6 separate regions of the Homo sapiens genome follow, and all the other regions are linked to region 6. Evidence: fine-mapped expression QTL. A gene starts in region 6. Each other region holds a variant in brackets. All regions are shown on one strand. Distances are from middle to middle. Region 1 overlaps ADGRD1 (adhesion G protein-coupled receptor D1). Region 2 has its middle 26 kb from the start of ADGRD1. Region 3 overlaps ADGRD1 (adhesion G protein-coupled receptor D1). Region 4 overlaps ADGRD1 (adhesion G protein-coupled receptor D1). Region 5 has its middle 28 kb from the start of LINC02414. Region 6 holds the start of ADGRD1 (adhesion G protein-coupled receptor D1).

Region 1 (5,071 bases), 78 kb after region 6:
TGAGAGCTCTCGATGTAGTTCCAACGTTAACTCATTGCCTGCTGCTGTAATCTACCAGGCTTATTTTTATATTGACTATTATAGTCAGTGCGGATGAACACTTGAACCTGCAGTGCGAATCCGTTCCCCTGACCCCAGCCTCTGTGCCTCCCCCTCCTCTGCTCCTGCCTCCCTCTGTCAAGATCCTTGGGATCACACTGGATACATGTGGCTAATCCAGGATCACCTCCCACCTCCAGACGTTTAATTTACCCACATCAGAAAGGTCCCTTTTGCCATGTAAAGTGACATTCCCAGGCTCTGGGGTTAGGTTGTGGGACTCTCGTACGGTGACATTCCCAGGCTCTGGGATTAGGTTGTGGACCCCTCGTTCGGTGACATTCCCAGGCTCTGGGGTTAGGTTGTGGACCCCTCATGTGGTGACATTCCCAGGCTCTGGGGTTAGGTTGTGGACCCGTCGTAGGTGACATTCCCAGGCTCTGGGGTTAGGTTATGGACCCCTCGTATGGTGACATTCCCAGGCTCTGGGATTAGGTTGTGGACCCCTCGTTCGGTGACATTCCCAGGCTCTGGGGTTAGGTTGTGGACCCCTTGTTCGGTGACATTCCCAGGCTCTGGGGTTAGGTTGTGGACCCCTCTTAACGGTGACATTCCCAGGCTCTGGGATTAGGTTGCGGACCCCTCGTTCGGTGACATTCCCAGGCTCTGGGATTAGGTTGTGGACCCCTCGTTCGGTGACATTCCCAGGCTCTGGGGTTAGGTTGTGGACCCCTCGTTCAGTGACATTCCCAGGCTCTGGGGTTAGGTTGTGGACCCCTCTTATGGTAACATTCCCAGGCTCTGGGGTTAGGATGTGGACCCCTCTTATGGTGACATTTCCAGGCTCTGGGGTTAGGTTGTGGACCCGTCGTAGGTGACATTCCCAGGCTCTGGGGTTAGGTTGTGGACCCTTCATACGGTGACATTCCCAGGCTCTGGGGTTAGGTTGTGGACCCGTCGTATGGTGACATTCCCAGGCTCTGGGGTTAGGTTGTGGACCCGTCGTAGGTGACATTCCCAGGCTCTGGGGTTAGGTTGTGGACCCGTCGTAGGTGACATTCCCAGGCTCTGGGGTTAGGTTGTGGACCCCTCTGGTGGAGGGTGGGGATTGTGTTTTGTCAGCTGCAGAGGGTAAATTAAGAATCTGTGGGGAGCCCTTCCAGACTGTGCCGCTGAAATTGTTGGGGCAGTGGCTCTATCTCCGAGAATGCAGCTAGATCTCAGAATGCATCCCCAACGTTGCAGCGTGCGCAGGCCCTTCCTCCTGAGGGCACCCACCTTGGTGAATGGGATTTTCTGTATCCAGTTGTCTCTGCTCCAGTTGATGTGGCAGACACAGGGTCAGACAGAAGCTTGCTGGACATCGTCCCTCCCCTGAGGCCAAGGCCGGACGAGGGGTCTCTTCAGCTGCACATCGGGGCAGGTGAGGGGTGTCAGCCACGTCCCGGGGAATAGTAGCCTGCCCACCTCAGCAGAATGGCGAACTCGCTTTCCCGTGGCCTTTGGCATCTGTAGCGTGGATGCCATGGAGTGTGGCGCGTGACACCTCAATGTGGCACACTGAGACTGTAAAGAACAGAAGACACCAGTACTTTAACCCGCGGCTGAGGGCTCATCGCTTTGAATACGCCGGGGTGTGCAGAGCACAGGTCAGCTATTGTGTAGGAGAGACACTGAGCCGCATCTGCAGCCTGTTGTTCTGGGGTCGCCTTGGTTACAGCCACCTCTGTCACAATGTGCAGTGTGTCGGAGTCTCCTTCCAGAGGAGCACTCGCCCACAGCCAGGGCCCCCACCGAGGGCCGCTCTTTTCACCAGGGTTTCTGAACAGGCCACATGGGAGCCCGGAACGCAGGAAGGGCAACACCTCATCCCAACTCACCACACTGGGCCCCGGGGAGCCAGGGGCTGGGCGGTCTCAACTCTGAGCTCCACTGCCGGAAGCTCTGCTGCCTTGGGG[G/C]GTCCTGTCGAAGCTGCTCCCTGCCTCCCACCCTCCCTTCCTGCGCCATGTCATTTGTTGGGGGCTCTGACAGCGGAGCCCACTCACGTCTGGGGCAGCCTTGGGTACTGCGTGCTGCCCTGGTGCGGCTCAAACACTGGACGGTGGCCTTCATCCCTTTAGGCCTGGCTTAGCCTCTTGCAGGTCTGAGCCCAGGTGCAGGAGAATTCGGGGAGACTGTGGGGCATGACTGGAATGGGGTGAGTTCTGACCTGTTGCTGGGATGACCATTTACACAGCTTGAGACATAAATGCAGTCCCTCACCCATGCGGTTCTGTCGACGAGTCACCCATTGCTCACAGCTTCTCAGATTTGCGTTTGTCGGTGGTTTTCCCAAGGTTCCAGGATTAGCAAACACGGCCCCCCCACCCTTCCTTCAGGCCTGGTCTTAAACCAGGTCACCCACCTGCCCCTCCCCTTGAGGCTGCAGGAGTTCTGGGGCCCCTCTCCACCATCCCATTGTACTGGACCCCCAGGGCCACCTCCATGGATCTCTGTGTCTTTGATTCTTGTGCCCCCAGGGTTGGGCCTGGGTGTCAACACCTTGTCTCCCCAAAACCTCAGGAAGTGACTTGGCTTCTCCCCAGGGGCCAGCTCTGCATACCAAACATCCGGGTCACTTCTGCCAACACTCGGAAACCCTGAGAGGTGTCATTGCCTCGTCCCCGCACATGCCAGGTGCCTACCTGCCTTCCCTGTGGGAAGCTGGGGAGCCATTTGTGTCTGTTTGGTGAACTGCTGCCCCGGAAGGGAGGCCTTCAGATGAACCAGCCTGACTTCTCTCCTATCGCAGCCTCCACCCTTGGCTCTGGGGTTCCTGCCGCTGTGCCCCACAGATAGAGGGGGTGACATTGCTTTCCAAAATGCAGCCCTTAGCCCTGAGACACAGCCCAAATGTCCTTCTCCAAGTGTCAGGCACCAGCTCCAACCCTGTCCCCCGCAAGGGGCACACAGGGCTCCCCCAGGCTCTACTGAAGCCCTCTCCTAGGCTACACAGGCATTCAGTAGGCGGCAGACGTTCCCTCTCCACCCTGGCGGTGGAGGCAGAGCTCACAAAACAGCTCTATTCAAAGACAGTCTCACAGGTCCACAGCTTATTGTGCCACTCGCGACCCCGCCTAGATCCTCCACGAGCACGAATCATCTCACGGGTTCTGACGCCTGCTTTGAAAATTCAGCGTAGTAGGAGGTTTCACAACTCACTTTGGTACCCTGGAAGTACATGCGATGCCTCCGCTGACACGTCCCCCACCGCTGTGTGGCCTTTTCCCCGAGTGTTCTTGCTGCAGGCCCGGGTGCCAGCACCTGCACACGAACTCTCGGCTGCCCTCTTAGGACAGCAGTGAGCGGAGAGGGCTCTGCAGCTCCACGTGGTTGCTCACTGTGCTTCCTCCAGGGCCCCTCTGCTTCCTCTCCCTATGGTGGGGCAGTGACGATTATGCTTATTAGAGAAATCACCACCCCGTCACAGAGATGACATTTATTAGAGAAATCGCCACCCCATCACAGAGATGACGTTTATTAGAGAAATCGCCACCCCGTCACAGAGGTGACGCTTATTAGAGAAATCGCCACCCCGTCACAGAGGTGACGCTTATTAGAGAAATCGCCACCCCGTCACAGAGGTGACGCTTATTAGAGAAATCGCCACCCCGTCACAGAGGTGACGCTTATTAGAGAAATCGCCACCCCGTCACAGAGGTGACGCTTATTAGAGAAATCGCCACCCCGTCACAGAGGTGACGCTTATTAGAGAAATCGCCACCCCGTCACAGAGGTGACGCTTATTAGAGAAATCGCCACCCCGTCACAGAGACCACTTCATTTGCAGCTTCCTCTCCTCCCGAGCTAAATGGCGCGCGACGAGCCCCGCCCTGCCCTCCAGGACATTCATGGCTCGTGCCAGGCAGTGCCCTGGGTCTCCTGCATGCCCACCCTCCGTGTGCAGACCAGGCTGGCCCTGCCCGAGCTCTTTTTTTGTGCGGGCAGGGCCGTTGGGTGGGTCCCCTGTAGCTGTGTCCAGATGGGATTGTCTTGTTTTTGTGTGGCAGGGGCTGGGGTGGGGTGGGAAGGAAGGACTTCCAGGCCGGAGGGGTTTCTAGAGCTGGTCATTGCTGGGGCCAGGGTGCCCTTCCATCATGCACCCCACAAGCACTGCCCAAGCACCACATCTGTGCTCAGCACCGTCAGAGCCCTGGAGGCACAGTGAGCAGGACAGGCGTCCACATGCGGCCTTCCTTCCCGCTCAGAGCGTGGCATGCAGGGTTGGGTTCCTTATGTCTTTTCGGAGCCCCCTGAACGCAGGGAATTCTTGTCCTCTGCTGGGCTGGGTTGCGCAGGTGTGCAGTGACGGAGGCAGCCAGGCAGGTTCTCAGTGAAGACGGGAGTGTGTGTCCCTCTTGCCTTGGCTGACAGGCCTGGGTCCCGGTGGAGTGGACTGGAGCCGGCCCTGGAGGGGCAGGCCGTGGGCCTGGGTGGCCACAGGGGCTTGCAGGGGCACGGGATGTGGTGGTTGCCAGGTCCCTGGAGCAGGTGCCCAACCAGGGCTGCACAGCCGTGTGTCCTCTGTGGTCATTTCCACGGCTGCTGCGTCTGCTAGGGGGAAGCAGCTTCCCTGAGCCGCGTGGGTGAAGGCTGGGGACACGTGGTATCTGCAGGATCTAGGTGTGAGCGTCTGTGCATTTTCACGGCACTCCTGGCAGGACAGAGCTCCACCCTCTGCCAGTCCTCCCCGGGGGATGCCGGCTCCACCTGCAGCTCACGTCCGATTTCCACCGGTACCCATCGTCACCATCACCAGCCTTGCCCCTGGTTTCACTGTCTACCCCGGAGGCCAGCGCCAGCCTCCCAGCCGCCCCCAGCTGCACACAGCAGCCAGAGTAATATTCGACGTGGCCGTCAGGTGGTGTCACCCTGTGCTCGAACCCTCTCGGGGCTTCCTCTGCATTTCAAGTAAGATCTACACGCCCTTCTTCCCCTGCCCACCCTGCCGCACTCTGGGCCACTCCCCGCCCATTCCACTCCGCTCCCGCCA
Region 2 (5,071 bases), 26 kb before region 6:
CCAACCAGGCAATGAAAAATAAGAGACTTGTGGTTTTCCAAACATAGGCCGGTTTCTTACTACAGAAGGCAGCTGTTTCGACAGGTCAGCTGACGCTGGTCCCAAACAAGCAGTGATTCACAGCATCCTAGGAACTTCATGCTAAAGATAGAGGAGGAGAGAGGTCGGAATCTTGAAGAACACGGCGTTCTTTCATCTGCTATTTTAAAGTCTCTAACTTAGTAAAGAATACTCTTTGTTTTACAGTTCTGCGTGAAAGTAAGGGATATGTTTGGTTGATGTGGTTTGGGAGGAGCGTGCTTTCCCGCCGGGCTTCTCGCTCTGCAAAATGCTGAGATGTTGTTAAGGGTGAATTACACAGATTTGGAAAAACAAAAGATGGATGAAGAATTGAATGTATAATAAAGAAGAGTGCCACAGGCTGGTTGCTTAAAATGAGAAGCCTTAAGATGTGCTTGAAACTTTTATAAAACAGAATTTTTGGCCGGGCACAATGGCCCACACCTGTAATCCCAGCACTTTGGGAGGCCGAGGCAGGCAGATCACAAGGTCAAGAGATAGAGATCATCCTGGACAACATGGTAAAACCCCGTCTCTACTAAAAATACAAAAATTAGCTGGGCATAGTGGTGCACGCCTGTAGTCCCAGCTACTCGGGAGGCTGAGGCAGGAGAATCGCTTGCACCCGGGAGGCAGAGGTTGCAGTGAGCCGAGATCGCACCACTGCACTCCAGCCTGGGCAACAAGAGTGAAACTCCATCTAAAAAAAAAAAAGAATTTTTATTATTTAAGTCATTGGCTGGATACATTCTTCTTGTGAAGATGTAAAATGTCGCAACAAGGCTAGAGAGCTCTTTTTTTAAACTTTATTAATTTATTTGAGACAGGGTCTTTCTCTGTCACACAGGCTGCAGTGCCAGTGGCACGATCTTGGCTCACTGTATCTTCAACCTCCCAGGCTCAAGCGATCCTCCTGCCTCAGCCTCCTGAGTAGCTGTGATTACAGCTACTCAGCTAATTACCACCACACCCAGCTAATTTTTCTATTTTTATTAGCGATGAGGTCTCACTTTGTTGCCCAGGCTGGTCTCAAATTGCTCGCCTCAAGTGACCCTCCCGCCTTGGCCTCCCAAAATGCTGGGATTACAAGCATGAGCCACTGCACCTGGCCTTAATTTTTTTTTAAGACAATGTCTTACTCTGTCACCAAGGCTGGAGTGCAGTAGCTCAATCTCAGTTCACTACAGCCCTGAACTCCTGGGCTCAAGTGATCCTCCCACCTCAGCCTCCTAAGCAGCTGGGACTGTAGAATAGTCCCAGGTACACCCCTGGGCAGTAAAGACCTGTGACTTCTGGCCCTTCTCTCCATTCTCCAGAAGTATATTCTCTTTTGGTTTGCATCCTATCCTTCCAGAACTTTCCCTATGCCTTTGCATAATATGTACCCAGATGTCATTTATGTATATGCTGTACGTAAATAATATCGCATGATCTTAATAGTTCTGTAACTTGTTTCTTTTGTTTTGTTTTTGTTTTCATGTGGCATGTCTTGGAACTCTTCCCATGTTAGTGGCGTGTATTCTATATACTGCCACCCAGGATTGAAAAATATTAATCAGGTTATTTAGGCCACTCTAAAGCTTTTGGAGAATTCTAGAGCCTCAAATTCATACATTTTGACAACTTGCTTCCTTTACCTGGCAATAGGTCATCTTGAATTTCTCCAAGCTTCCTAAAATCCCCATTATTTTAGGAATTTTCCCCTAAATATCTGCAGCAAGTCAGAGTTCCTTCTTGGAAAAATGGCCGCCTTCTCCCCTATGTGGACCCCCTCTTCTACATATTCACTTGCTTGAATTAATGAGTTGCTATTTTCTATTCTATTCCTTACTAACCAACAAGAAAATGATTATGATTTCTCTATCACGTTTGTCAGAAAACTGGTCTAATGAGGCCTGGCACAGTGGCTCAAACCTGTAATCCCAGCATTTTGGGAGGCTGAGGTGGGAGGATCACTTGAGTCCAGGAGTTTGAGACCAGCCCTGTGAACAACATAGCCAGACCCTGTCTCTACAAATTAAAAAATTTGTAGAGACAGGAGGTCGAGGCTACAGCGAGCCATGATCACACCACTGCACTCCAGCCTGGGCGAAACAGCAAGATCCTGTCTCAAAAAAGTAATAATAGGCCAGGCGTGGTGGCTCATGCCTGTAATCCCAGCACTTTGGAAGGCAGAGGCGGGTAGATCACTTGAGGTCAGGAGTTCGAGACCAGCCTGGGAAAGATAGTGAGACCCCTGTCTCTACAAAAAATAAAAGAATTAGCTGGGTGTGGTAGTGCACGCCTGTGGTCCTGGCTACTGGGGAGGCTAAGGTGGAAGGATTCTTTGAACCCAGAAGGTTGAGGCTGCAGTGAGCTGTGATTGTACCATTGCACTCCAGCCTTGGTGACAGGAGACCCTGTTTCAAAAAAGAAAAGAAAAAAAGAGAAAAGAAAAGAAAAGCTGGTCTAATGACATAATTAAGACAAGTCAGAGAGTGACTCCAGGCTTGGCACTATTTGTAAACATCCGCAGCAAGGAAAGGGTCTGAATAGAAGGGCAAAGCTGAACCCCAGGATGTCACCTGGATCCAGCTGTGCCTGCAGCCAGCATCACCACTGGCCTTTCCTTCCACGGACCAGTTTGTTTTCCTTCTGCTTCTATCAGATGGGTTGGTAACTGACATAGCCCTGACAGACAGGGCCGTAGTGTCAGATCCCATTGCTGTCTTCTCATGCCTCTTTCCGGTTTCAGCATCTGCCAGGAGCTTCTGTTTTTCCTTCTTGGATGCTCTGCCTCTGTTCTCTATTTATTCCGACCCTGCAAAGAACCAAAAACGTCACAATCTGTACACAGCGTAAATCATTACTTGTCTGACTGCATTCATGGTTACTGTGTGTCCTTGTGTATTAGTTCATATTTGGCTTAGGTAACACAGCAAAACACACACACACAGAAAACAACAAACCCAGCAATGCTTCGTATTTATGCAGCAATAGCATCACTTATTTGGCAACACATTTTTGCCATGGTTTTAACTCTAGTTTGTGGGGAGTGGCATATGGAGAA[G/A]TTTCACTCCTTCCTGAGTTTTCTTGTACTTGTCATTCTTGAGTTCCTGCCAAAAGTTTACATCTAATTGCCCCGACGTCATCCTTCCTTCCCCTCAAATAGAAAAAACAATGAGTCCTGGAATTTTTTTTTTTTTTTAAACAGGGTCTTGCTTTATCGCCCAGGCTGGAGTGCAGTGGTGCGATCTCGGCTCACTGCAACCTCCCTCTCCTGGGCTCAAGCGATCCTCCTGCCTCAGCCTCCCAAGTAGCTGGGACTACAGGTGCATGCAACCATGCCTGGCTAATTTTTATATTTTTAGTAGAGACGGGGTTTTGCCATGTTGCACAAGCTGGATGTAAATTCTTACAAACCTGTTCCCTGCACATTTATTTTCTCATTCCACACGACTGTCAAATTGGAAATTCTCCCAAGATGCTTCTGACTGTATCAGGCAGAGTGGAGTGTGAGTGGTGCTGTTTCTCTCTTCACGAGGACACGGCTGGGTGTCTTGGCCACCCATTTTTATTCTTTGTTACTGCGACCGAGGAACAGGGACTATTGTCAAAAAGACTTGAGCAAGGTCGGACTAGGAAGGTTTTTTTTTTTTTTTCCATGGGTTAAAGAAAGAAACATTCTCTTGAAGATGCTATGAGATGGGAAGGTTTCCAAAGCCTTTGAATAGCTGCACATGAACTCATCATAAAAACGTAAAAATAATCCTCTTTGTGGTGCACGTGATTGTGAGCCTCTGTGTCTGTCTGGGATGCGAGTGTGAGAGAATTGAGTTAGAGGTGACCACAGGTCACGTGTCTGGTGATGATAATGTCTTCACGGACCACAGAATATAATATCAAGGTAATGAGAAACTCTACTGTGCACTTCTTTGTTATAAAATATTTTTCTTTCAGAATGTTTAGACATACGGAAAGGACGTGGTGGAGTGGTTAAGAACGCAGGTGCTGGAGTGAGGCTCCCTGCATTGGAACCTTTAATCCTCCACTCACAAACTGGCCTTGGGGAACCTACTTTACCTCTCAGAACTTCTGTTTCCTCATCTTTAAAAGAAGGTTTTAAAAATAGTGGCTCACTCTACAAAAGAATTTTAAAAAATTCCCTGGGCATGGTTGCACATGCTTGTAGTCCCAGCTACTTGGGAGGCTGAGGCAGGAGTATGACTGGAGCTCAGGAGATCAAAGCCGCTCTGAACTGTGGTCACACCACTACACTCCAGCGGGGGTGACAGAGCAAGACCTGGTCTCCAAAAAGTAAAAATAAAATAGCATAAACTTCCTAGGGTTGTCCTAAGGAATCAGCAGATGCCTGCAGGTTGGCACTCGGGGCAGGGTTGGCACAGGGGGCTGCCCCACCAGTGATCACTTTGAGGATGAGGATGACATTGTCTCTGATCATGAGATGAAGATGGTGAAGGAAGGGGATGGTGATTTAACCTTTATTAAGACTTGGCCCCACTGGACAGCCTGCCTGACTGAGGAGTCTCTCTCTCTATAAATTCAGAGACACAGAGCCTAAGAGCAGTCTAAAAGTATGCTCGTTATTAAAAATCTCAAAAAGGTCATGGTTTCAGGTGTGCGTTCTCATCTTCCAGGATGAGCTAAAGCTTCCTCATTCCATGCTTCCTCTGTGGCACTTACAGGTCTGGGTGTGCTCAGTCCTCTGGATGTTCAGCTCAGCAGCTGCACAGCTCAAGGTTATTTTTCTGCCAGAGGGAAACAAGGTGGGCTGCAGACACAGTTCTGATTTTGGAGCAGGGTCGTGTGCAAGGGTCATCCATTCCCACTCATTTACTGGCTGTTCCTGCAGGTCTCAATGAGACGTGTGGCTGGCTGCACAGTAGCTGCCAACTGGCTCTGCTGGTTATAATCAATGGTTCAGCCTTCTCTCTCTCTTTCTTTCTTTCTTTTTTTTTTTTGAGACGGAATCTCACTCTTGTTGCCCAGGCTGGAGTGCACTGGTGCGATC
Region 3 (5,071 bases), 140 kb after region 6:
GGCGGGACTGTGCCAACTGCAGTGCCGGCAGCCGCAGCATGTACAGCTCAAGTCAGAAACAGGCTCCCTCCACGGGGTCTCTGTGTGAATGTTAGCCAGACCACCTCCCAATAACACCTCCTGCATGCAGCTGGGGTTAGTAGTGGCCCCTCTGCCTCCCAGCCAGCTGGACACACAGGTCCCTCCCAGTGATGTGCCAGGTGGCCTTGGGCAGGTGCCTGCTCTGAGCCTCAGTTTCCCCGCTGTGACATGGGTGGGACCCTTTCCTTGTGGAGCTGTGGTGGTGATGAGGAGGCAGAAGTAAGCACAGCTCAGGCCCAAGCACCCAGCCTCAGCAGCACCCAGCCTCAGCACCCAGCCCTGAGCACCCAGCCTCAGCACCCAGCCCTGAGCACCCAGCCTCAGCACCCAGCGTCAGCACCCAGCCTCAGTCCCCAGCCTCAGCACCCAGCCTCGGCACCCAGCCCTGAGCACCCAGTCTCAGCACCCAGCCCTGAGCACCCAGCCTCGGTACCCAGCCCTGAGCACCCAGTCTCAGTACACAGCCTCAGTACCCAGCCTCAGCACCCAGCCCCAAACACTGCCTGACAGAGTGAAGTCACAGTGAGCCATGAGTATGAGGTCCCTAGGGATGTCCTGGCCCTGAGGACCCCTGAGAGTGGAGTGGGAGTGGGGTGGGGTGGAGCAGGCCTGGCTACTGCACCTGGGACTGCAGCCATCCCAGCATTGACCCGTTCATGGCCACAAGTCTCCTTCCATTCACTCTTCATAAGGAAGGTTCAGTCCTGTGGCTGTGGGCACCGGGGCAGGACGGTCTATTGCCCTGTTGATGGGGGTGGGGGTAACTGTGGAGGCTGGAGGGGCTCCAAGGAGAGGCCCCTCCACCCATCCCTGGACCCCTCTAATCCTGGAGGCAGAAGAGGGTCCTGCCTTGCCCAGGAGTAACAAGGAAGTTGGTTTGTTCAGCAGCGCCCCCCCGACTCCCCAAGCAATACTGTGGTTCACCAGTGTCTTCTGGCTGAGTGGGGAGGGCATGCATCCTCAGTACCATCCTCTTAGAGACCCAGAAAATTGTCACCATCCCTTCTGATTTCCCAGCCTGTGCAGTTCTTCCAGAAGGAGAGGGTGGTGGGCAAAGCCTGCTGGGTCCTTCTGCATGGGCTCCTTACCATTCCACCAGCAAGCCCTCCAGGTGCACGGGTGCACGCTGTTCCCGCCCCGCCTTACAGATGAGTTTTCCTGAGCCCTGTCCTGGGCTGCTGAGAGCTGGGCTGGGGATGGGAGCTGGGAGCTCACCCGGGGGAGGCGCAGGGGCATGCGTCCTTCCACCCCCTCCCGTCTCCTGCCCTACCCACCCCTTCCCATGCCCCTCCAGTCTCCCTCGAGACGCCCCCTCTCAGCCCCCAGGGCCCTCCCCTGTACCCTGTGGCCTGTGCCTCTCTGAGTGGAGAGCTGAGTGAGCCCTGGGAACAGGGCTGACACCTGCCACCCCCATCTCTCCCTTCAGTCCCCCCGACTCTCAGGCTGCTGGCCACCTGGGACATTGGGAAATGGGCCTAAGAGGTAAAAACCTGCACTTCGAGGTGGAGCAGCAGCCAGTTGCTGCCGGGACTCAGCTTTGCTGTCAGCTCAGCCCCAGCCCTGCCTGGGCACCTTGCAGTCCTGGGGGCAGGGAGACGTAGCTTCAAGGTTCTGAGGGTTCCACCCCTGCCCCTCTTGACAAATTCAATTGCCGTTGCCTCCTCCAACCAGACCCAGGCTGCTCCTTTTAGAGGAGAAGCATATGTTGCTTCATTTATTCCCTAATTCTCCTGAAGAAGTGTCTGCTCTGGAGTGTGCTGGGCTGGAGCCGCTCTGCAGAGGGAGCTGCAGCAGCCTCTGGGGTGGTCCTGTCTTGGGGGATCTTCTTTCGGGGCTACCCTCAGAATTGGGGTCTTACTCTGTGGGGCTGAGGGTGGGCCGGGTGACCAGGACTGGGAACATGGTCAGGGGCCAGACTGGACGTTCCCAGGGCAGATGGACGCATAGCCCGGCCGAGGGATCGGGTCGCTTTGCGGGGCAGCTGTGGGCTGCAAGGCTGTGGTCAGGGCTTGACGTCTGAAGCAGGCCAGGTTTCTGGTCAACACGTATTTTTTGTCATGAGTGTGTTGAATCTTGGGAATTAGAGTGGGGATGTGGGCCGTCTTTGAGAAGCCGCCAGCCCCCGTGTTAGGAGTGGGACAGGAGCTCGAGGGTTCTTTTTGGGACATACAGGAAGCTGGGGTGTCAGGAGACAGAGGGGTTCTGTAGGTTGAATTGTTTGTAAAGATGATACA[C/T]GCATGTGGGAAAATGCAAGAACACAGAAGGCAGAGTGTGGAAACTGACGGTCACGGCCACCGTTCCCGCCTCCCAGCCCTGCCCAGAGCAGCGGCTTAGGGTCACGGCCACCATTCCTGCCTCCCGGCCCTGCCCAGAGCAGCGGCCTAGACACGCGCTTGCTTTTCTGTCATTCCAGACGCAGTTGCTGAGCCTGGGGCCCCGCTTTGCTCTTTGTTCTTTTTTTGTTTGTTTTTAAAATTTTCTGTACCTCAATGGATGCAAACCTTCCTTTAAACAAAGGGTAGTGAAGCATAAAGACTGCACCCTTTATTTTTATTTACAATTTATTTGTGTTAGAGACAAGGTTGCACGCTGTGGTCCAGGCTGGAGTCAGTGGCGCCACCTTGGCTCACTGCAGCCTTGACCTCCTGGGCTCCAGAGATCCTCCTACCTCAGCCTCCCAAGCAGCTGAGACTAGAGGTGTGCACCACCATGCCTGGCAAGATAGCACACTTTAAAAAATGTATGCACGTATCTTGGAGGTTGCTCCTTCTCAGGGTACACAGAGCCACATCTCCCGTGTTAACCACTGCATAGCTCTCCCGCGGGTGGACACTGAAGTCATGGTGGTCTTTGGCCGCAGCAAATAACCAGCATCCTATGCACACATCCCGCCTCCATCTGTGAGGATGGGTTCCCGTGGGGCACTGCTGGTCCAGGTTTACATCCCGCCTCCATCTGTGAGGATGGGTTCCCGTGGGGCACTGCCGGTCCAGTTTTATATCCCGCCTCCATCTGTGAGGATGGGTTCCCGTGGGGCACTGCCAGTCCAGGTTTACATCGCCACAACTGTTTAAAGCAGCCATCGTCTGGGGCACAGTGGGGACTCAGCCCTGAGTTCCCAGTCATGTTGAGTCCTGGGTTCTGCTCTGAGATCCACCTGCCTCCTGCTGCCCGGCTCTGCCTCCCACGGCCGACCACTGTGCTGAGTTGCAGGTCTGTCACTTGGGGCAGGTGATGGGAGGGGAGGAGGCCCAGCAGCTCTTCTCTCGCCCCTACACGTGGCTTTTTGGGCAGTGGCCACGCCTCTGCTGTGGCTGCAGCCCTGCTGGACAGTCTATGGATCTGGCTTCCACGGGGGGATTTGTGGCGAGGCTCATTCCTGGGCCACCTCACTACCCCTATGAGGTCCCCCTTTCTCTCCCCTCCCGAGGGTTAGCAATTCCCTGAGTCAAATGTTCCACTCTTTGAAAGGCTGGAGTGGTTTCTGTTTTCCCAGATGGCCCCAGACTGATGCACAAGCTGTGCGGCCAGGGGAGACAGCAGGAGCCCCCAGGGTTCCTGGTCTGGAAAACAAGAGGGTGATGGTCCCCCCAGCTGACACTTTCAACAAGGTCACTGTGACCCGAGGCAGGCCAGTCCCAGCATCTGTTCAAACACACAGCAGCCCAGCTGGGTCCTCGGGGAAGATCTCCTGCCTGTGGCCAGTCCTCTCCCGTCCTGCAGCACCCCTCAAGTGGCCAAGCAGCTCATTTCTACCTGTCCCCGGGCTGTCGGTTCATTTCCATCAGTGGACGTGAAATGTGCCAGCAACTGGACCCAGCCCGGGGGAGGCTGGCTGCATGCTGCTGGCACATGCTACGGCTGCCTACGGCCAGGGATGGCCGCCAAACCAGGGATGCCTGGAGTCACAGATCCGCCAGGGCCTGGTCACTCGTGCTGTCCAGGAGCCAAGGGCAGGAGTGCAGCCCAGCCAGGGGCTGAGGGCTGCCCTGAGGGGAGACAGGCCCCGTGAGAGCCTGGATGCCAGCCGCGGAGAGACCAGAGACAGGCAGGAGCCAGCCTGGCCGGGACAGGGTGGGCGTCAAAGGTTGGGGAGCAGATGGTTGGTTCAAGGGCTGGTGTGGGGGTGGAGTGTGGACCTAGCCCGGAGTTCCTGCTCTTGTGCCCGGGAGCCCATCCTCTGCTCACCCTGCTCTCTGCCCTACGCTTGGCTTCCTGCCAAGTCCAACCAAGGAGAGATGGTGCTGCTGGGGTGGGCGAAGGGGCCAGCCTCCTGCCTGGGCTCCTGCTGGCATGGGCGTCCCCCTGTGGCTCCAGCGCCTGCATGCAGACCCTCCCCTGCACCCCCGCGCCAGCCTCACCTGGGCAGGCTGGTCTGGTTCCAGTTTCTGCTGGTGGCCCGGCCTGGCTCTGCTGCTGTCCCCTCTCCCACTGTCCTCCCGCGGTGGCCGCTGTCTGGGCCTCACTTCCTTCTCCCGCAGTGGCTGCTGTCTGGGCTGCCTCACTGCCTTCTCTGCTTTTTCAGGGCTTCCCTCACCTTCATAACCAGCTCCCCAAGTCCAATCCCGAGCGGGGAGGGTCTTGCTTTCCCATGATGAAGGGAGAGGGTGGATGGAGGCAGGTCAGAGGCACGGGCTGGGGCTGGAGCATGCGGGGCCTCAGAAGCCATGGTGGGGGAATGGGGGTTTGAGTCTGAGACTCAGGCGCTATGGAGGGGGTGAGCCATGAGGGACGAGGCTCCAGTGTACAGCGGAACCCAAGCCAGGAGGGACATGGTAGAGGATGGGGCTGGTGCTGTGGGGAGACCAGGGAAGCCCAGGAGGCTGAAGAGATCAAGGCAGAGGCTCTAGAAATCCATCAGAAAGAGGATTGGGACAGATGGCCAGTGGTGAGAAGCCAGCAGGACTCGGAGGTGGGTGCTCCAAGGGAGAGGGAAGGGCCTGGGTCAGGGCCTTTCTCAGATCATGGCCGTGTGAGGGCCACCATCCCT
Region 4 (5,071 bases), 27 kb after region 6:
CCCTTACCTAACACCACATGGAATTTTTTTATTTTTATTTTTCTTCCTGAACAGAAAGACATTTGGCCAAGACAGGCTCATTTTGAATTGAGTGAAAGAAATTTTAAAATGCAGCAAAGTTTTTGGAAAAAATTAACTTCCATGAATCCTACTGGGAATTTGTTTCATAACAAAAATTTCACAACGCACTGTGCTGACTTCCTTGTGAAACGGGTTGTTTCTGAGTGTGCAGGGAAGTGGCGGGAGGCTTGGGGGTTTGTCCTGGCTTCTGTACCCCTCAGCGCCCAAGGCAGGGAAGTGGCGGGAGGCTCGGGGGGTTGTCCTGGCTTCTGTACCCCTCAGCGCCCAAGGCAGGTGTTGCAGGAAGCCCGTTCATGAGGTGGGTGTGGGTGGTGCCAGCCAGGTCTGGGGACACCAGCGTCAGCTGCCCCAGGCCTCTGTGCAACCCCCACAGTCGCACCCTTTTGCGGTAACCCACATTACTGGGCACTCGGGAAGGCTGTTTTCTTTCCCAGGAGCCCTAAGGACAGATGCCGCAGGGCTTGGAGTTGTACCCCGTAGCCTCTCAGAGGTCCAGAAAGGTCCAGGCCTCTTCCAATTTTTTTGAGGTTCTTCTTCTCTTAAAAAATAAAATGGGGAAATTCCATACCAGGGTTATAAAATGTATGCTGTGTTTTTCCTGAATCCTGCGAGGGCTTTGAACTCACAAAGGTATAGTTGTCTTGATATATTGTCACAAGACATTTGAAGGACTTCTAACAGATATGTTAATTCATAAGGCATCACAGAAAGCATGGTGGGCAATGAGACACTGCCTTATACACGAATGACAAATGTCTTCTTTGAATTCAGTGACTCTCTAAGACTGTGTCCATAACCTCATGTGAAGGTAAGGTCTAAAGTCTAAATTTGGCACCATTTATAGAAATAAAGCCCAGGGCAAATATCCTTCTGCCTCTCCCCTGCACCCACCGTCCCATCATGGGCCTCTTTGGACCAGTTCTGGGCACGTGTTCTCTCTCAGCACCACTGAACCCTCTTACCCATGTGCCTGGGCCAGGCTTGGCGGGGGTGAGGCAGCTGGATGTATTTCCAGCTGTCAGGGGCAGAATCCAGACAGGCAGCTAGTGTCTCACACACACACACACACACACACACACACACACACACACACACACTGGAGTTTACACACAAAGAAGGGCCAGGTGGGCAGATGCTACTGGAGGCAGAGAAGTGGAATAGAGACAACCAGAGCTCCAAAATGCAACGCCAGAGAGGCCCAAGCTCCACAGAGCCTCCAGCCAGGCCCTGCCCTGACTTCCCCTTCAGCAGAGAGCCCGGCCCCCAGACCAGTGGGTGTGAGTGCAGAACAGCGGTCGGGGTGGGTGCGGGGCATGCTCAGGAGCTGGGCTTTTGCGGTTCCTCTTTTTTTTTTTTTGAGACGGAGTCTCGCTCTGTCGCCCAGGCTGGAGTGCAGTGGCACAATCTCGGCTCACTGCAAGCTCTGCCTCCCGGGTTCACGCCATTCTCCTGCCTCAGCCTCCTGAGCAGCTGGGACGACAGGCACCTGCCACCACGCCTGGCTAATTTTTTGTATTTTTAGTAGAGACGGGGTTTCACCATGTTAGTAAAGATGGTCTCGATCTCCTGACCTCATGATCCACCCGCCTCGGCCTCCCTAAGTGCTGGGATTACAGGCGTGAGCCACCATGCCTGGACCCTCTTTTTTTTGAGACAGAGTCTTGCTCTGTTGCCCAGGCTGGAGTGCAATGGCGTGGTCTCGGCTCACTGCAACCTCTGCCTCCGTGGTTCAAACAATTCTCCTGCCTCAGCCTCCTGAGTAGCTGGGACTACAGGTGCATGCCACCACACCCGGCCAATTTTTATATTTTTAGTAGAGACGGCATTTCACTATGCTGGCCAGGCTGGTCTCAAACTCCTGACCTCAGGTGATCCACTTGCCTCGGCCTCCCAAAGTGCTGGGATTACAGGCGTGAGCCACCGCGCCCGGCCTGCAGTTCCTCTTATAGTAAAAACATGGAGAAATCCCACATGAGGATCATAAAAATTACATTGTTTTTCCATGTTTACATTGATCACAGTAGGACTTTGCACCCACAAAGGTACAATATCTAATTGTCATAATTTACTGTAATATACTGCCACAACACATTTGAGGTATGTCCTATCTGCTGCTGGTGGCGGAGGCAACATGAACTAATGAGCCAGCTCATTCATGCTAACATGCGTCGCTCAGACCATTTAGTCCAGGTGCAATCCCTCCTCCCCCGCAGCGTGGGCCTGGGGTCAGGACTTACCACGAATGTGCAGACTAGAGTCTTGAAAAAGGTTTCAGCTGCTGCCCCCTCTGTATCCAACTGCGGGAAATGAACAATTGAAGATATCAACAACCTTAAAAGTGTGCTTCCCTTTGGCAAGAAATGCCCTCTTGGGAATGTATCCTAAAGGCATATAGTCTGAGATATGCAAAAGAATTTGCTTCAAGTTCTGTTTGAAAATTTCTTCAAAAAGTGGAAGAAAACCTTAAGATCCAGCAACAGGGGATTGCTGTTTAAAAAAAAGACTGTGGTGCTTGTTTAGAATGCGCCGCTGTGCAGACATAAAAGTGACAACGTGACAGTGTATTTATGGACATCGGAGGAAGTTCACGGTGGAGTAAACTTTATAGAAATGTTGTTTATAAACCAGTGTGCCTGAGATGGTTC[G/C]TGTCTTTGTAAAATCTATTTATAGAAGAGGCTTAGGAAGGAGCCGCCCTAACCACATTTCTGGAGGAATAGGAGAGAAACCTGGAGGGTGTAGGTCTTCACATTTGCATGATCCCGGGGAGTGGGGGCGGGGAACTGCCTGGGGCTGCAGCGATCTTCATCAGTCACTGGTGACCTTGAGTGAATGAGCCTCAGTTCCTTCATCTGTATAGTGGGGATGAAGCAGGATTTTTGTACTTTTTAAAAGGCGAGAATTCATTTCAAACTCCTAGAAAAGTGCCTGGCACTGTGTGAGCCCTTAATAAACATGAGCAAATATCACTGTCTGGATTTTCTGAACTGAACATACACTGCCTTTAGAATGGGGACAAAATGCTTTTCGAATGAAAAATAAAAAGCAAAGAGAACCATGTGCTTGCGAGAAGTCAAGTCCCCTGCTCTCTGTGAATAACTGATCTTGTGACTTTCCTCAGGGGTCACGTTTTCTTTTTTCTGGAAGACACAAGGAGAACAGTCTAGACCAATCCCTTCTGCGTATGGGGGACAGGTCATCTCCAATGGGTTCAAAGTCTGCTCCAGCGGTGGCAGAGGCTCTGTGGAGCTGTATACGCGGGACAATTCCATGACATGGGAGGCCTCCTTCAGCCCCCCAGGTGAGTGACAGCATCGGTCCCGGGAGGCTCTGCCTGGAGGAGTGGAGTCTTCTCTGAGAATGGACGCTGAGAAGCCCAACGCAGCCCAAGGAGCCCAGGGATGCTGCTGCCTCCTGGCACCCGAGCTCCTTTCCTTTAAGGGTTGTTGGGGAGGTGCATGGGGAGAGGCAAGGAGGTGCCCTTGGTAAGCCGCCTTTGGTTGGTGCAGAGCCTGGGCTCCGTCTGCCCGTGCACTGTGTGCCTGCTGTAGGTTACCTGACCACACTGACCTCAGTGATCACACCTGTGATGTGCAGATGATATTGACAGTACTTACCTCACGGTTTCCAGGACATTAAGCTGAAGATATGGTGTGCAAAGTGCAAGCAGTGGTTACATTTCTCCTTCTTTTCCTTCTCATTTTCCCTCTTCCTCCTCATCTGCCTCCTTTTTCTCTCACAGTCTTTGTCTCTTCCTCTTTCTCTTCCTCCCCCTCCTCTTCTTCCTTCTTCTTAGTGGTATAGACTTGAAATTGTTTAAAGCATGACGAGAAGAAGCTTTTGGAGAGAGAGGCTGAAGAATCGGGGAGCAGAGGAAGGGGCTAGGGGAGAGCGCATGAAGCACTGGACTGTGCGTGGTCTTGGAGGAGGGAGGGGCCCTGGATGTGTGGGAAGAGAACAGGAGTCCCTGCACATTGGCTGAGTTTGCAGGTGGGTGTTGAGACATGGACGTGGGGCAGTAGGCTGCAGAGGCTGACGAAGGTCTGAAGTGGAAGCTGGAGAAGGGGAACAGGTGGCTGGGGACACAGAAGGACTCAGGGTGGCATGGAGTGGGGGCCAAGTCAGGACTGGAGCCCAACAAGGGAAGGGCAGAGGTGGAGGGGGCAGCACAAAAGCCTAGGATGATCTCCTCCGGTAGGAAACATCTTTGATGTATTTAAGGGAAATCCATTTTCTGGCTCATTCTTAAGGGAGGCTGCATGGCCCAGTTATTAAAAAGCGTGAACTCTGGACCCAAACAGGCTGGATCAAATCCCGCCTCTGGACGTTGGTAGTTGTGTGAACCTGGGCACCTTCCCTAACTGCCCTATGCCTCAGTTTCCTCATTCATAATATGGCAGTAATAGCAGTATCACATCATAGGGTGACTGTGAGAACTAAGTGGGCTGCTAGGCATAAAGCGTGGAATGATGGCACAGTGGGCCCAGAAGGTGTTTGCCTTCTTCTGTGGATGCTCGGTGTGCTCGGACCAGCTTGTACCTCCACCTCTGTAAAGTGGGGCAGTTCAGCAAACATCTACTTCAAATTTGCCCTCTGTGATCCCTAAGGTCAGAAATAATCTCTGCCTCCCTCCCCTGACACAGAACCATCTGAACCTTTTCCGTGACCTTCCTGTTCCACTTGCTATCAGAGTCCGATTGTAAGCAGCTTATCTCTCTGCTCCTTGGGGCTGGTGGAACGTGGTTTCAGGCATCCATTAGGTTCTTTGACCTTGAACAAAGGTAAAGTATGCTCAACTCTGGCTGCTTTTCCACCCAGGGAAAGGGCGAGAATTAGAAACACTTCTGGCTGGCAATGTGCTCTCTTTTGTGCATTGAAGGCGTTTGTTATTCTTACTTTCAAACTCAGGGGCAATAATACTTTGGACCAACCTAGGGTCCAAGCGTGCTCCAGAGACTCAAAATTATCAGAAAGTTGCACAATCTTGAGCAAG
Region 5 (5,071 bases), 670 kb after region 6:
TCGGCTGAGGACCACAGCAGTCCCGCTTGCCTGAGAGCTCCGAGTATGTCCTGGGAATGGAGGCGACTGGGGCGGGAAGAGGAGAGTTTGTTTGGGAGCCTCATAGCTTTAAAGACACTGTTGACATCCTATGGTGTTGGCTACGTGGAGGAGTCGGGTCCGAGACTGTGAGGATGAGGGGGTCCAAGTGCCATGTCCTGGGAGCAGCTACCTGGGGGCTCACGGGATCCTTTGCAGGGGGCCGGGGCCTCCCCTTACTTTCTCGCCAGCACCGATGCCCTTGTTTCTGATATCAGCCCAGGGATCCCCCCGTGCCCCTGGTCTCTGAAGTTCAGGTAGGGCTCAGGCTACCCTGTGTACCCTCACACCATGGCAGGCACGTGTTCCAGGACAGGCAGTCGGAGTTACAGTGGCCAGGGCGAGGGAGCCACCCTCCAGGCACGCAGGGAGCCAGGCTTGTCCTGTGCACCCTCCCAGCTCTGGGTCCTGTCCCTCAGGGCCTCTGATTTGCTGGGCCGTTTGTGCTGCTGTGACTATTTGGTGGGCCCAAGTATGCTGGAGAAATTCTGGATGCCATCCATGACTAATAACCGGGCAGTGCACTTGCAGGATGCAGCAGCTCCTGGTGCCACGGCCGCCTCCCACACCAGCCCCTGGGGAGTGGAGAGGCCTCCGGGTGTTGCTTCTGCACGTGCTGTTCATGGACATGTGGCCTGGAAAGCAATTCAGGTTTGCTCTTGGTGAGCCTCGGAAGCTCCAGGCGGCCGCTAGAGTCTCAGACGTCGCCACCCACAGACCTCTTGGGTTTTGCCATCTTGGCATAAACAGCCTCGGTCCCGACCCCTGCCCTTTATTAAGCCCTCTTCAGTTAACCCGTCGTGTCCCTTCTGACTGCTGGGGGACTCCCTCAGATACAAGCTGTCTCCTCCACTGGAAGGTGAATGCCGTGAGCGCGGGGCCCTGGTTCAGCACCAGAGACAGCGCTGGCACCTCAAGAGACTCAGTGACATTTGCTGAATGAGTGAATGGACAAACGATGCTTCAACTGCGCAGATGCCATCCGCTCTTTCAGGAGCCTGGTCTTCCCACTTTAGCGACCATCTGAATCACGTGGGAGGCTGCAGAGACGCAAGAACCTGGGTCTCTCACACTCCATATTCTGATCCCAGGGTCTGGGCTGGGACCTAGGAATTTGCATTTTTACCTAGGCTCTCATACAGGCTTCTAATCTGATAGATAAAGTCTTCAGGAAGTCAGCCTCTGATAGACAAGTGCTATCCTCGGAAAACAGCATACACAAAGCTGAAAATAATTTCCCTTTCTGCCTCCTCCAAGGCTCAAGGCTTCTGAGAAACTGCTCGAAATTTTCTCAAAATGCATGCTCTATTTTCCACTCTCCTCCCCTCTCTGCATTCCATTCAGCCATCCCAAGAGGACCCACATGAGTCGCTGCTCCTTCGTTTCCTTATTCTGGAAACTCCTAAGACATCCTCTCTACACTGATGATTTTGCAGAGCGAAGGAGAAACAATAAACATCTTCCAGAAAGAATTTCTCAGTGACTGCAAACAAGGAGTGAGATTTGCATTCGGGGGGGCTGTTTGCCCTCAATGTGGGGAGTCGGCAGTGTCAGAACTTGGCAGTGACCCTGAAGACGTGGACAGGAGCAGATGGGATGTTTGACTTCACCTCCCTTTTGCTCCCCGATGCATTTCAGTGCAGGCCTGGTGTGCTGCACCAGCTGCGTGACAGAGGAGGAGACGAGGAGGAGGTTCTTGGGCACAGGAGGAGCGGGGCTGGGGTGAAAGCAGCCAGCCAAATGCAGGGGGTGCACTCAGCGGGGGAACCCAAAGTGTGTGGAGAAGAAAACAAAGTGCTCTCCAGGACCAGCCCTGCCCACGGCCTCCTGGCCCTCAGGGGGACTCACAGAACTGGCTCAACAGGTGCACACAGATGTGCACACACATGGGCACACAATGCATATACACATATGCATGCACACACAGAGACCCACGCACGCAGACCCAGACATACATACATGAATGCATATGTGCAGACACGTGCATGCACACAGACACACACACACACACACACGCACACAGTACTGGAATCACCACAACCAACATGCCACCTGCTTAATCCTGTTCGAAAGGACTTTCCTTGGCCTCAAGTTTTTCCACACCTGCCACACTCTGCAAACCTCCAAGAAGCCAGACCCCCCACAATTGGACAATGTCTGGTTCCTCACAGGAAGCTGCCATCACACATCTGGACAGCAGTGGGGCTCACCTTCTGGGAAAGCCTGCTCTCCTGCTGCAGGGGGAGGACTCACCAGACCCCAGAGTGGGAGTGTAGGATCGTGAATGCTGCAGAGCCCACATAGTCTGATATCCCGGCGGAGCAGGATCTGCTTCCTGGCTGGTGCAGCCACTGCCCAGCTCTCCTCTGCCCCTGCTCCACATGTGTGTCATCTGGGCTGTCTTGGAGGCAAGTGACAGAAAGGGGGCTTCACCAACGCCCTCACCTGAGCACCCTAAGAAGGGGCTGGCAGCATCAGGACAGGCCCAGGCTCAACCCTGCCCTCAGACAGAAAGCAGCTCAGCGGTTCCCCAGCTCAGACTCCGCAGCCAAACTCAATGTTCAAGACCCAGCTCTCCCACTTTCAAGCAGTGTGGCTTTGGTGGCATTGCTTAACCTTTCTGGGTCCCGCTCTCCCCGTCTGTGAAACGATCATGGTGAGGTGCCGTGGGGCTCTGATGAGGTTGCCCACGCCAGTACACACACAGCAGGACTTTGTGGATGGCTGGCAC[C/T]GCCCGGGCGTCACCCTCACCCGGCCCTGGCCGTCAGCTCACCATCCTCATCTCAGGCCCCCTCCTGTGCGGCGGCAGAGACAGGGCTGCACGCGGCTTCCATGGGCCCTGGGCCCTTTTGCATTCGTGGGCTCCTTCCTCCATAAAATCACCTTTAAGCTTCTATTTTACAACTGGTACAAAGATGAATAGGTTAATATTTCTTTGACCTAAGAGCTCATATTTTCTTCTAATTTTAAAAGAAATTAAAACATTTTTGTAGCCCTGGAAATCCTCAGGGCTCTTGCACTTTGCCTGTGTCCCTGATGGGGGAAGGCGGCCTGGAAATGGCCCTCAGAGAGCTCCTCTTAACTGAGCAACTGCGAGGCAAAGCCTCCCTTCCCCAGGGGTTTCAGAAAAAGTCCCGGGCACATTCTCATTGGACCAGCTTGGGTCACATGGCCATGCCTGAGCCAATCCCAGGACCACAGTATGAAATATGCTGATTGGGAGGCGTGGCTTCCCACCTGTGAATCACGTGCACCAAGTAGGGGTGACCTGGCAGAGAAATACAGAGACAGGCAGGTGAGTCCTGGACGGACCCTAGGGACATCTGTTGTCCCCCTCAGGACCACATAGCAGAGCATGATACGGTGCCTGTCCACAGCCCAGGGACCCTTTTCAGCGGGTGGCAGAGCTGGCTATCCGGGGAGGGGGCAGAAGTTCCAGTCTGGTGCACCGAGAGCGCCATCCCCTCACTGCAGCCCCGCCCAGAGCCCCAGGGCTGAGGCCAGACTTAACCGCTGGGACCCAGGCCTGCCCTGGGGCCACCTCCCAGGCCAGGCTCTGTTCCTCACTGGGGCACTGTCCCTGGGGGAGGCGGACACAAGGGCCCTTGTTGTTCCTGGAGGAGGAGGCGGCGGGGAGAGCTGTGCAGTCACTGTGGGCTGAGCCAGCACTCTCCATCCTCCCCAGTCACTCCCAGGATGGCCAGATCCCTCCCAGGCCTGGAAACTGCTCCTCAGCCTCTCCCCGGGGCAGGGGAGAGGGGGTCAGGGCTCCCCTGGACAGGGAGGCCCAGCATGGCCATTCCCGCTCACGTGCCCACTGCACGATTAACGCGCATTGCAGCAATTTCCAGGCTGGCGCTCACGAACGGTGCCGCTAAGAGCACTTTCTGGTGAACACACATGCCCCTGTCTGTGGTGCAGACACCCCGGAGTGGAACTGCTGGGTCGGGGTAAGTGGATCTTCAGCTCTGGGCGACGCTGCCGGGCTGCTTCCCAAGTTCCAGATCCACCACACCCCCAGGGGGTTCCAGCCTGCAGCGGGGGCTGAGACCCACAGCTCTGCTGTGTACATGAGAACACACACAGGCACATGCACACCTACGCGCATGTACACACATGCACTCACACGCACACGTTTCCTGAATTCACACACATGATATGTGGGCTGAGGCTGTGTACACACACATGCACATGGGCACACACAGGCACGCACCAAGTGTACACTCACATTTCCTAAGACCACACACGATACGTGGCCCAGGACTGCGTACAGCTGGCATGTCTGCTTGCCTGGGCAAGAGCCACAGCCTCCTCCTGGCTCTCCTGCTGCCGCAGCTCCTGCACTCCACGGAGCCTCGCCTGGCCACACTCCCTGCACGGGGCAGCTCAGGAGCCTCGGCCTCTGGCAGGAGAGGCTGCAGGGTAGGGGCTGGCGGGTGGCTGGGGTCCCTGTAGTCCGGCTTTTTTCCCTCCTCACACACTGCTCTCTGCTCTCCGCTTGCCTGGCCCCGAGGCAAAGGGCCCAGGGGTCGCTGGTGAGGAGGGGCTGCAGCTGGGCTGTCCTGGGGGAGGGAAGGAGATTATAAAAGGCCCTCAGAGAGCTACACAAGGTGGCCTTGTTTGGGGAACAGCCTCCCCCAGCCCAGGGTTCCCTCCCACGTGAGCAGGAAGGGGTGGCCCAGGACCTGTGGTCAGGAGGCCTGCCCTGTGTGGCTGGGGTGGGGGTCACTGCGGGGCTATTTCTAGCTCCAGCCTCTGCCCCGCAACAGGGGGTATTGGGCGAAGCTGTTTGCAGTCTGAGGCATCCGGCCCCCTGGCCCTCCCTGCAGCTGTGACCTCACCAAAAACAGAGGCCACACTTCTCAGGGTAGGAGGGGCCAGAAGGCCCAGCTGTTAGGGTAGACAGCTGAGGCCCCAGCTCCCTGGGGGACCCGGGGCAGAATGACCTTCCTCTACAAGCTTCTGTGGCTCCCCATTGATATGCAGGGGAGTC
Region 6 (5,071 bases):
GTAGAGACGGGGTTTCGCCATGTTGGCCAGGCTGGTCTCGAACCCCTGACCTCAGGTGATCCACCTGCCTCAGCCTCCCAAAGTGTTGGGATCCACCCCTCCGGGCCCACCACTGTTCTTTGTTCTAAATTTCTTCCTGAGGGGCCTGGAGGAGGTCATGCCCACAGGCCAGAGCTAACATTCTTTTTTGCTGATCTCAAATTTTTTGACAAAGCCTTGCCTTCTTAACCAATCACAAATCAGAAAACCTCTGAATCTACTACCTATATGACCTGTGGGCCCCCAGTTCAAGATGTCCTAGCTTTTTAGGTCAAACCAATGTGCAGCCTCCAGGTATTATTCATGTGGGACTTAGCCTGTAACCTCTGCCTCTCCACCTTGAAAAACCCTCCCCCATCAGCCATCGGGGAGTTCAGGTCTGAAGTGTGAGCTGCCAGGTTCTGCTCGCCTGGTGCCCTGCTCTAAATGCCTCACTTCCTCTCACTGCAATCCCGACGTCCATGTTTGGCTTTGCTGCGGGAGGGCAGAGCCAGGCTGGGTTTGGTGACAAACGCTGAGTGCTCACCAAGTACCAAGCCCTGTTCTCGGGGCTGGGGTGCAGAGCGAACAGGCAGAAAGAAGGTCTCTGCTCTCATGGGGCCTACGCCTCGGTGGGGAGAGACTGACAATAAATGAAATAAACGTCTAAGATATGAAGTACATTGGATCGTGGTTAGTGGGATCGAGAAAATACAGCAGGGGAGGGCTTTAGGGGGAGGGAGACCTGCTGTCAAGGTGATGTTTGGGTGCCGAACACCCCGACGTTTGGGTGATGGAATGAGATGCTCAGAGACATCAGAGTTGCTTGGTTCCAGGCCCATGGACCACTCAAGGCCCTGTCTCAAATCTCCAGGCTTCAGGACACGCTGCTTTACATGGAGGCGGGCTCTTCATCTGGGCCTCTGAACAAGGCCTGAGACAGGACGCAGGCAAATAGCATGAGGCACGAGACTGTAGTCCGGGATGGAGAGTCAGAGTGAGTCTGAGGATGAGTGCAGATGCCTGCAGGGCAAGCTCTGCTGAATTGCTTTGCTATCTAGTTTTTATTACAGTCATTGAATCGGGGTGTCTCCCATTATCTGATGACAATTTTATGATGAAAAGAAACCATGCTGGCTTTGTTCGGTCATGGAGATGGGAAAGGTCCGCATATTCAGCAATCTGTTGAATTCTTCCAGGTTAAAACTGGAGCTGAGAAAAACCTGCAGCTGCCTGTCCCTCCCTTCACCTCTTCCAGCGAGAGGCAGTGGGGGACTGGAGAGCTGATGAAATGGCAGAGATAAAGGTTGTAAATTAGTTTTCCCTGAAGCCGACCAGCCTGAGCAACAGGATAAAGGTCGTTATTACAGACAGCCCCCGGCCTTTGGAGTTCACAGTTTCTCCATTGCTAGGAGATGGAACTCTCTGGAACCCTTCTCCAGCTCCACAGAGAGGCTCAGGCTATCAGAGGATCTGAGCGGTTGTAGGCTGCAGGCACAAGTTAAAAATAATCACCTAACGTTTTGACAGCACTTTCTTTTTTTCTGTCCCACAGAGATTGGAAGTCATTTTCTTATCCTCTTTAGGAAGTATGTTGGATTCAGGATTCTTAATTCCCATTTAAAGTCAGGACAATTGAGATAACTGTATCAGCTAACATTTACTGGGTGTTATGTTATACTTGCTAATAATAATCATAGCTAACATTTACTGAGTGATAATTTTTCTTAATAGAAAATAGCAGCATTTACTGAGTGCCACATATTTTCCAAGTACTGCCTGAAGAGCCTTGGATCTGTCCTCTAATTTATTGTTACAGCCCTGAGGAGGAGGAACTATTAACCCCCATTTTGTGGATGAGGAATTCGAAAACTAAGAGAGATCAAGTAATTTGCCTAGGAGCACAGCTGGTGAATGTTGGAGAAAGTATGAAGCGGTAAATATTACTTAAATCACATAGCAAATATAGCTGTGACTGCAATTCTAGGGTGTGTGTCTCTGTGTGTCCACGTGTATTTGGAGTAGATCGGATAAACTTTGGTCTTGGGTAAACTGAGGCATGTCTGGCGAAGGGGCTGACTCTTTTCTATCCCATTGAGAACATCCTCCTGGTGCTGGGGTGGGGGTATATGTGGGATGGTGTAATTGCGCAGCGTACCTTGTAATTAATTCCGTAGCTTTCACTGACGTCCGAAAGGATTAGAGAGAAAAATGTGGTCAGCGCTTAATATGGAGGGCACAGTGGGTGTGCTGCTTTCTCTTTTCCATCCCTCTGTCAACTTCATTCTCTTTTGGGGGCAAACAAGACTCAGATCTAAACAGAGTTTATGGTTTGTTTTGCATTTTGTATTTATTAATATTTATGCCGACTTTGAAGGTGCTGACCAGAAGGCATCAGTAACACACACACGCACACGCACACACACCACACACCATGTCTGTTTGGTTTGATTCTGAGCCTGAGATCCTGGAAATATTTCAGCTGTTGTTAAGAGGCTGGAGTTAGGACCCAGGAAGGACACAGCAGTGGGGATATAAATAGAAAAGGAGAACAGAACAAAGTTTGAGGAGAGAGACTTACATCACTCACTCCCCCTCCACCCAGAGAGCAGGACGGAGGTGTGAACTTGAGCCAGACCAGAAGGAGCTCGAGAGCGGCCGCAGGACAAGCCCGAGGAGCAGGCGGGCGCTCCAGGGGAAAACCACGCACAAAACCTTCTTCAGAGAAAAGGGAAGCTCCAAACCTGACTGAGACAAACGGAGGCTCTTGAAATAAAAAGAAAATACCGCAGGACAAACAGCCTCCCGTCCCCGGGCGCAGGTCGCGGTCACAGTGGTGACCTGGGATTGCTTTCCCAGGACTGCGAGTCGGGTTTGGGTTTCTCCTCCCTGCATTCCACAGCTGCTCTGGTCATCGCAACGTGTTTATTGATCACTGAAGAATCTCAAGTTTTGAGACGAGGAAGAAACACCCATTAGGTCTCCAAGACAGCTGTGTTTCACAAACTTTAAGGAGACAGAAATTTTCTCCCCTGGAACCTGTGAAAATGTCCCTTTTCCAAGGAAGTGAAGGTTAAGAGGTCCCGTTCTCACAGACCCTCAGGAATTTCACTTGGCTCCGAGCTTTGACCTCCGAGAGAGCCATGGAAAAGCTGCTGCGGCTGTGCTGCTGGTACTCCTGGCTGCTGCTATTTTATTACAACTTTCAGGTAATGTCCCCAAGTGGCCAGGATGGCGACAGGCTTGGTTTCTCCGGAGGCTTTCCCTGAGTGTGTCTCACACTGTGGTCTTTTGTGCGCAGGTGCGTGGCGTCTACTCCAGATCGCAGGACCATCCAGGTAAGAGTGTTTCCTTCTCACTCTGAGCACCGCTCTCCCCCTGCCTAGTGCAGGTATCTCAGGAACAGCCCACTTGTTCATCTCTGAGGCATCAGCGAATGGCCCTTGTTGGGCTCCTGGTCCCCGACCTCACTGCCTCACCACACACTGTGACCCTGGGCAGCTCTGCTACCCCTCACCGGCTGAGCGGTGGATGGAGAAGTGGTTCTGGGCCCCTTGAGCTGGGTCATATGAAACATTGTGATTAAGGAAATATGATCTTCATTTGAATGCCTTCTGCCTCTTTCTTTCTCTCTTTCTCTCTTTCTTCCTTTCTTCCTTTTTTTCTTTTTGAGATGGAGTCTTGCTCTGTTGCCCAGGCTGGAGTGCAGTGGCCGCAACCTCTGCCTCCCGGGTTCAAGCAATTCTCCTGCCTCAGCCACCTGAGTAGCTGGGATCACAGGTGTGCACCACTACACCCAGCTTTTTTTTTTTTTGTATTTTTAGTAGAGACAGGGTTTCACTATGTTGGCCAGGCTGGTCTCGAACTCCTGATTTCAGGTGATCCGCCCGCCTTGGCCTCCCAGAGTGCTGGGATTACAGATGTGAGCCACCACACCCATCTCATGTCTTCAGGGCAGATTCACTGGTGGGGAGTTGGAGCTCTGGCCCATAGCAGGGTCTCGGGACCTCCAGCCTCAGAGTGCTGACCAGCTTAGCCTGGAGCAGCCGATGAGTGGGACTCGGGATAGAGGGCCACCCTTGCTCCAGCCCCAGAGCCACATTCCATTGGCCATTGTGACACCCAACCAGGAAGCATCAGGACGGGGCTTCTCTCGGGAAGACAGGGAGGCACACACCCTTCGCTGTTAAGAGTGTGGGCACACGTTCTGGTCAGCCAGGGGCAGGGATGGGAAGACGAGGCTTTCTGGGAGCAGCAGGCAGTCACTGGGCTGTTGCTCCCTGCTGGAAGTTGCAGGAGGTGGGGAGGAGACCCTGCTAGTGCCTGAACCCCTGCTGGGAAGCCTGTTGTGAGCACAGCCTCTGCCCCCGCCCCACCAGAGCTTGGCTGGGCACCCCCCCGAGCGCTATTGTATGGCCCTGCCTGTCTCTGATGGGAAATCAGCCTTTTTAAAAAAATTATTTTTGTTTTTATTTTTTGAGACAAAGTCTCACTCTGTCACCCAGGCTGGAGTTGAGTGGTGAGATCTCAGTCTCGGCTCTCTGCTACCTCTGCCTCCCGGGTTCAAGCGATTCTTGTGCCTCAGCCTTCCAAGCAGCTGGGATTACAGGCCCATGCCACCACGCCTGGCTAATTTTTGTATTTTTAGTAGACACAAGGTTTTGCCATGTTGGCCAGGCTGGTCTCGATCTCCTGACCTCGGGTGATCCAACCACCTCGGCCTCCCAAAGTGTTGGGATTACAGATGTGAGCCACTGGGCCTGGCTGGGAACCAGCCTTTAATGATCAACCACAAATGGACTCAGGCCAGCACTGTGGGCAGATCCCAGGGCGATACCCAGGCCTCCAGGGAGAGCCCCTTTCCTGGATGGAGCACCAGGAGCCTGCTGGGGTCTAGGGCCAGGGGCTGTGCCCTCAGCCTCTGTCTCCTTTCCGGCTGCCCGGCAGCCCCATGCCAGGATGTTCCAGGCATCGTCGCCTCGCCACCACCTCCATTCACCAACTCGGGGGTGGGGACGCTGCCACTTCTGTTTCGTCCACATGCATAGGGAGC

What was found.
Region 1: its variant is fine-mapped to the expression of ADGRD1 in cerebellum (GTEx, PIP 0.97). The same link has a PIP of 0.9 or more in hippocampus.
Region 2: its variant is fine-mapped to the expression of ADGRD1 in fibroblasts (GTEx, PIP above 0.99).
Region 3: its variant is fine-mapped to the expression of ADGRD1 in blood mononuclear cells (TOPMed, PIP above 0.99). The same link has a PIP of 0.9 or more in whole blood.
Region 4: its variant is fine-mapped to the expression of ADGRD1 in whole blood (TOPMed, PIP above 0.99). The same link has a PIP of 0.9 or more in blood mononuclear cells, microglia and spinal cord.
Region 5: its variant is fine-mapped to the expression of ADGRD1 in whole blood (TOPMed, PIP above 0.99).

Annotation. Positions count from the first base shown.
Region 1 is chr12:131,029,171-131,034,241 of GRCh38, forward strand. All of the region lies in intron 13 of ADGRD1 (adhesion G protein-coupled receptor D1), which reads left to right. Among named protein-coding and RNA genes, the nearest start is that of ADGRD1-AS1, 38 kb to the left of the region's middle. The variant G/C (reference allele first, on the strand shown) is at 1,998.
Region 2 is chr12:130,925,722-130,930,792 of GRCh38, forward strand. No RefSeq gene overlaps it. Among named protein-coding and RNA genes, the nearest start is that of ADGRD1, 26 kb to the right of the region's middle. The variant G/A (reference allele first, on the strand shown) is at 3,110.
Region 3 is chr12:131,093,612-131,098,682 of GRCh38, forward strand. All of the region lies in intron 15 of ADGRD1 (adhesion G protein-coupled receptor D1), which reads left to right. Among named protein-coding and RNA genes, the nearest start is that of LINC01257, 69 kb to the right of the region's middle. The variant C/T (reference allele first, on the strand shown) is at 2,316.
Region 4 is chr12:130,978,685-130,983,755 of GRCh38, forward strand. It overlaps ADGRD1 (adhesion G protein-coupled receptor D1), which reads left to right. Exons shown (of 25, transcript NM_198827.5): 5 at 3,200-3,379. Among named protein-coding and RNA genes, the nearest start is that of ADGRD1-AS1, 13 kb to the right of the region's middle. RefSeq lists an enhancer at 862-1,852. The variant G/C (reference allele first, on the strand shown) is at 2,727.
Region 5 is chr12:131,617,483-131,622,553 of GRCh38, forward strand. No RefSeq gene overlaps it. Among named protein-coding and RNA genes, the nearest start is that of LINC02414, 28 kb to the right of the region's middle. RefSeq lists enhancers at 103-603, 604-1,104. The variant C/T (reference allele first, on the strand shown) is at 2,810.
Region 6 is chr12:130,951,305-130,956,375 of GRCh38, forward strand. ADGRD1 (adhesion G protein-coupled receptor D1) reads left to right here and starts at 2,603. Exons shown (of 25, transcript NM_198827.5): 1 at 2,603-3,227; 2 at 3,320-3,356. The coding sequence starts at 3,162.